2 linked regions of the Homo sapiens genome follow. The protein of the gene in region 1 purifies or fractionates together with the protein of each later gene. This does not show direct contact. Each region holds a gene or a part of one and is shown in the gene's direction. Other genes may lie near its edges.

What was found.
Region 2: the proteins of LSM14A (region 1) and MRPL1 purify together in Homo sapiens (affinity purification with mass spectrometry; one large-scale study listed by BioGRID and IntAct). This does not show direct contact.

The regions. Positions count from the first base shown.
Region 1 is NC_000019.10:34,210,504-34,214,003, forward strand, and holds part of LSM14A (protein LSM14 homolog A), read left to right. Parts: intron 1-3,500. UniProt on the Homo sapiens protein: Essential for formation of P-bodies, cytoplasmic structures that provide storage sites for translationally inactive mRNAs and protect them from degradation. Acts as a repressor of mRNA translation. May play a role in mitotic spindle assembly.
Region 2 is NC_000004.12:77,949,830-77,953,285, forward strand, and holds the end of MRPL1 (large ribosomal subunit protein uL1m precursor), read left to right. Parts: coding exon 1-49; intron 50-2,594; exon of another isoform or gene 2,595-2,659; coding exon 2,660-2,778; 3' UTR 2,779-2,956; downstream 2,957-3,456.

The DNA.
Region 1 (3,500 bases):
TCAAGTGATCCACCTGCCTTGGCCTCCCAAAGTGCTGGGATTGTAGATGTGAGCCACTGCGTCCAGCCTACTTGCTTAATTTTTAAACATTCTAAAGATTGTTTGTTTGTTTTTTGAGATAGGGTCCTGCTCTGTCTCCCAGACTGGAATGCAGTGGTGTGATCATGGCTCACTGCAGCCTCTACCTCCTGAGCTCAGGCCATCCTCCCAATTAGCTGAGATCACAAGCAAGCACCACCAGCTAGTTTTGTAGGGACGGGGTTTCGCCATGTTGCCAAGGCTGGTCTGGAACTCCTGGGCTCAAGTGATCCACCCACCTTGGCCTCCCAAAGTGCTGGGATTATAGGCATGAGCCACAGTGCCCGGCCTATTCTGGAATTTTTAGTTAAATCAGGAACACATGAAAAAGAAGCATAAATATTGAAATTAGCATTATTCATGAAGAATGAGAACTAATAAGGAACTTAAATTAGGCACAGGCAAAATGTAAATTAAATATACAAAAGTCAATAGTTCTGGCCGGGCACGATGGCTCATGCCTGTAATCCCAGCACTTTGGGAGGCCAAGGCAGGCGGATCGCCTGAGGTCAGGGGTTCGAGACCAGCCTGGCCAACCAACATGGTGAAACCCCATCTCTACTAAAAATACAAAAATTAGCCGGGCATGGTGGCGTGCACCTGTAATCCCAGCTACTCAGGAGGCTGAGGTGGGAGAACCCGGGAGGCAGAGGTTGCAGTGAGCCGAGATCACGCTACTGCACTCCAGCTTGGGCGACAGAGCGAGACTCCATCTTAAAAAAAAAAAAAATTTAATAGTCCTAAAGCCTAATCCATTGATTATGTAATGAGGAGAAAAGATGATTACAGTAATGCAAAATAGAAATTGTATACAAAATATATAATAAGAAATAAGTTGGTCATACTAAGAAATATGACCAACTTCTATGATAAATAATGTAAGACAGGGACATAAAAGTTGCATGTAATGGAAAAAACATATCTTATTGCTAGATAGAAGAACAAGAACAGTACCAGCACTTAGGGAGGCAAAGCCAGGATGATCACTTGAGCCCACGAGTTTGAGACCAGCCTGAGCAACGTAGTGAAACTTCATCTCTACCAAAAAATTTTAAAAATAAGCAGAGTATGATGGTGGACACCTGTGGTCCTAGCTACTCAAGAGGCTGAGACAGGAGGATCACTTGAGCCCAGGAGGCCGAGGCTGCAGTGAGCCCTAACTGCACTACCTCACTCCAGCCTGGGCGACAGAACCAAGACCCTGTCCCCCCCCAAAAAAAAAAGATGTTGGGAAGACTTTACTCCTCATAGTTAACAAATTTATTGCAAATTAATTAAAAATCAATGCAAATAGAATAGTAGGAGAACTTAGTAAAACAGTTTATCTTTAAAATAAACATGGAAGTGTGGCTGGACATATTTGAAAAATAAAAGTAATGGGTTTACTGACATGATAATAAAATGTAGCAATGCAGGAAAAAAGAAAGAGATGAATAGAAAGCAATAGGCAGGCAGAAACAGATCCGAGTATAAATAAGAATTTATCCTGGGTGCAGTGGTTCATGCCTGAAACCCTAACATTTTGCGAGTTCAAGATGGAAGCCAGGGATTTGAGACTAGCCTGGGCAACATACCAGGACCCTGTCTCTAAAAAAATTAAAAATTAGTTGGGCGTGATGTGTGCGCCTATCAGCTTGAGAGGCTGAAGCTAGAGGATTGCTTGAGCCCAGGAGGTTAAGGTGGCAGCAAGCTGTGATTGCGGCCCTGCACACTAGCCTAGGCAACAGAGCAAGAATTCATCTTAAAAGAATTTAGTAGATGATAAAGGTATTATTTTAAATTAGTGGAGAGAAGGCTGTCTGTTCCAATTAATAATGTTGCCTGATCATTTGGAGAAAGTCACTCTAGATTCTTTCCCTCATACTGAGCACCAAAAAATATATAAATTTTAAATAGATTAAAATGTTAAAAATTTTGAAGTATGTGTTTATTAAAAGAAAGAGGTGTATTTACATAAAGTTATGACAAATGACAAGTCCTAAGAGTTTGCATTTAAGTTTTATCAACTAAAATTGCTGAATTTCACAAAATTAAAATTCCTAGAATTTTAAGTGTGATAAGATTGTGAAGATAGCTCAAGGGAGTGTGTCTATAATATGCAGAAATCACTTCTGGATTTATTCCTAATAATGTATCCAGTATCACAGTATCACCTGTATTTCCCTGTTTATAACAAAACTGGCATCATGATGATTAGTAGGCCTTAATAGTGAAAAGGCTTTTTAAGTACACAACAAATGTTTCTGTACTTGCTCCGATTGCCCCATTGCTTGTACTTCTGTAGTACTTGTGAGCCATAGGATCTTTTCTCAAAAGCCTTGATAAAGAAGTTTTATAAACTTATAAGATGATTTAATGTAGTACCATAAAATTAACTGTAGCAGTAGGCTTTTTCAGGAAGACATGTGAAATAAAAAAAATTAGCAAGGTGTGGTAGCGCACATCTATAGTCCTAGCTACTCAAGAGGCTGAGGCAGGAAGATCATTGGGTCCCAGGAGTTAGAAGTTGCAGCGAGCTGTGATTGCGCCACTGCACTCCAGCCAGAGCAACAGAACAAGACCCTATCCTGTCCCTAAAAAACAAAAAACAAAATGTGTTTTATAAGTGATTATAAAATGTTTTTTTCATAGGCCAAAACTTACATAAACCATGATTTCCCATTATAATCCAGTGGAAAAATTGTAATGCTTCTATTAGTGGTAACTTAATTTTGAAATGTTAAGTAGATTGTGCCTGTGTCGGTTTCTGGGTTTTGATAAATGATCATTTATTTGGCTAACTTTGCCATTAATGGCTGAAATGGTATTGCACATTTGTAAGTGCATACTTTAGATAATCATAAATTGGGGAAATATTACTAATAAATTATCCCTGAATCATCTAGGTACATAATAATGCATTGTCAGCACTCACCAGTTGTTTGACACCTGCAAATATGCACAGATGGACAGTAACATTTGCAGCATATTTGGGGGATTTTTTTACGTGAAATGAGCATTTTTTTTAAGCAAAACATTATATTTTGGAATAATTATGAGATGTGAGTGCCTAAGCAGAGATGTACAGCAAACATTATCAGGACAGAAAGCATGATGGGAGCACCCGATGTTACATTCTTCAGTTCATGCTGTGACCAGGCGACCTCATAAAAGGAAAAATATAATGTATAAGTACAAACCCCATTTTTTGTTTTGGCTCTTTTATATTTGTATTTTTTGAGACAGAGTCTAGTTTTGTCACCCAGGCTGGATGCAGTGGACCGATCTCGGCTCACTACAACCTCTGCCTCCCAGGCTCAAGCAATCCACCCACTTCAGCCCCCTGAGTAGCTGGGGTTACAGGCATGTGCCACCACACCTGGCTAATTTTTGTATTTTTTTTGTAGAGACAGGCTTTCGCCATGTTGTTCAGGCTGGTCTCG
Region 2 (3,456 bases), on another chromosome or scaffold:
CTGCAAGCAGTTATTAATGAAGTTTGTAGGCACAGACCGCTGAATTTGGGTAAGTGGTTTGCTGAGGGTAGACTTCCCTATGACCCTGTGAAACTTTAAAATGTAAAATATGAAGAAAAAAGTCAAATTAACATGCAAGTATAATAGCAAAATGTAAAATATTAAATAAAAAATCAAGTTAACATGCAAGTTTTATATTTCCAGGGATTAAATAAATAAAATTTAATTCTCCAAAGGATTTCTCTAGCATTAATAAGGAATGCATCCTGAAACCTTTGTAGATTCCCACATTATTACTAATAATAGATGTAGCAAAGTTTGAAAGAAAACTGTAACTGATTGCTTTAAACTTACAATGATGTTAGGGACTAAAATTATTTCTAAAATGATATTTTGAAACCAGATCATTCACTTTGTCATTGGCACTAGCAATTAGTTTTCTTAATCTTATTTATTTATTACAGGACAGAAAGAAGATCATTTTATTATGTCATGAGAGTCATTTATAAATGAGGTGACTCATAGAGAATCACTCAACTCAATTGAGATGTGGAAGCTGTGTAGTAGGCTAGAACACAGGCATCCAGTTTCTTTATCATTGCGTTGTGTGCTGTTCAAATTCCTTCCTCAGACAAATTTCACTTGTGGCTGCTTGAAGCCAAGCAAGGGTCCATTATACTCAATTGACTACTCATTTGTAGGCTTACCATGATAAGAATTTGTCAGGTTTAGTTTTATAACCAAGTTTATAATTAAAACACAATCTTAAGCTATTTTTTACCTTCTTTGGGAGTTAACCATACTGGTGAATAAATACCACCCTTGTTAATTTTCTTGCCCTAAATATGGCCATACTACTAAGTAATTGGATGTGTATGGATTCTTAGAGTCCACAGATAACTTTGATTTCAGTACAGGATCCTCTTGAGACAATAGTAGGAGTAGATGATGGACAGTAAATCCTCAAAATGTTGTTATTCTCTTTTTGCTATTTCATATGAAGCCCCTTAGCATGTTTAAATGTTGTGATTCTCTTTTTGCCATTTTATTTTAGTTTTTGAGACGGAGTCTCACTCTGTCACCCAGGCTGGAGTGCAGTGGTTTGATGTCAGCTCACTGCAACCTCCGCCTCCCGGGTTCAAGCAATTCTTCTGCCTCAGCCTCCCAAGTAGCTGGGATTACAGGCACCTGCCACCATGCCAGCTAATTTTTGTATTTTTAGTAGCGGTGGGGTTTCACCATGTTGGCCAGGCTGGTCTCGAACTCCTGACCTCAGGTGATCCACCTACCTTGGCCTCCCAAAGTACTGGGATTACAGGTGTGAGCCACGGTGTCCGGCTGTCTTTTTGCTATTTTAAATGAAGCCACTTAACGTTGTTCTTATGAAAAGCATTTTAGTTTTTAGGGAATTTTACCAACTGTGTGGTAACACAAAGGTAGCATCTGTGCTGACTGTTTTAAATAAATATTTATAACATTTCCATCAAATGTAAATATCACCACCTGCTCCCTTCACTGTTGCCTTTGCAATAAAATAAATTCTAGGTGATCATCTTCTGGAAGAGAGAAATGAATTATTAGTGAGTGTGTGTAGTTTGAAGGATAAATCTCTAATATTCTAGAGTACAACTAGTTTGTCTTCTATTCTAGAAATGAAACTATCTTCCCCTTCTTATAATTCAAAATATTAGTTCAGTAATACAGTACTTTTCACTGAAAATATGACATGAGTTCTATAAGTTTTCCTGTTGTATATTTGTACAGCAGGTCCTTGAATAACATCCTTTTGTTCAATGTTATTTTATTATAACATTGATAAGAAAAAAATAGATTCCTGGCCAGAGCCACTGTCTGTGTGGAATTTGCATGTTCTCCTCATGTCTGCATGGATTCTCTGGGTACTTCGGTTTCCTCCCGCATCCCAAAGGTGGCATGTTAGGTTAATTGGTATGTCTGCATGATCCCGGTGTGAGTTAGTGTGTGGGTTGTGTACGTGTGCCCTGCAATGAGATGCTGCTTATCCGGAGATCATTCCCACCTATGCTCTGACCTGCCAGGATAGGCTTTGGCCTCCCACAACCCTGGACTGGAATAAGGGAGTTGGAAGATGAATTAATGAATACAAACTATTGTAAAATAAAAATGGGCAAAGTATATGATAATCATACAAATGCAGGACAATAAATGATGTGGTATGAAAGCACTCAGTGAGGCAACCATATTTGTTAGTTTGTTTTTGAACTGCACGGTGGCAGAAGGCGCTTCTTACAGTTTTCACTTTGCAAACACTTAGTCTTTGATTTAAGTCACCACCACTATGACTCCTGTCACTCTGATTCACCCACAGTTGGGTAAATAATTATTGCTTTTATTAATCTTAAATGTATTTATAGTTCAAATTTATTTCAATGGTTAATATTAGAAGTGTTTGAGCTCTTTATTTAGAAGCTTGGTGATATTTTTGTGACTAGAAATATGCCTGAGAAACTTAACTCTTATTAATTAGCCTACGGTACAATTGGTTTCTTTATAAGTTGTTTTGCTTAAAGTTGCAGTTTCCAAGAACCTAGTGACAATATTAAGTGAGGACCTACTTTATTTGCTCATGAGGTGGTATTGCGATATAAAAATCAAAGTTGATTCTCGTTTTTGTTTCCAGGTCCCTTTGTGGTACGTGCTTTCCTTCGTAGTTCAACAAGTGAAGGTTTATTACTGAAGATTGATCCATTGTTGCCTAAAGAAGTAAAAAATGAAGAAAGTGAAAAAGAAGATGCCTAAATGTGGTGAATTGTGAAATTACTTTCAGTGGTTTAAGAAGCAATGGAGAAAATGATAATACAGCATAATTTTTACATTTGATGTCTTGTTATTGATCATACTTGAAAGTGAACTTTAACATTGAAAAATCGTACAGTCATTTCAAGAATAAGAAAATAAAATTTTCTCTTTGTCTGAACCTGCCTTTTAGACCCTGTGACATTTTCTTTTTTAGAATCCAGAGTCTACGTACTGGTAATTATAGCAGCAGTTTCTGGCTTAATAACTTTCCCTTGGGAGTCATAACCATCTGAGGGAATAGTAACATCCTCAGTTCCCATAAAGCAGAAAATGGCAGAATCATGAGCTACATCACAAATATAGCTATTTTCTTTTAAAAAAAAAAAGAAAATAAGCATTCTAAAGTATTCTGAATACTATTTGTGATAGCATGAATATAGAAAATTACTAAGTCACTAAACCGTATGTTGGGTAATCTCTTTTTAGGAATCAGTTTGTAATTATATATATAATATGTATATGTAATATATATTATTATATAATTATATATGTAATATATACATTTGTAATAATACCACATATTTTTATGATGCTTTGTAGTCTACAAGGCACTGTATGCAGTGTTTTCATATACGTGACCTCATTTGCTCCTGAATTTCTCTGCTTAATAGTATAACA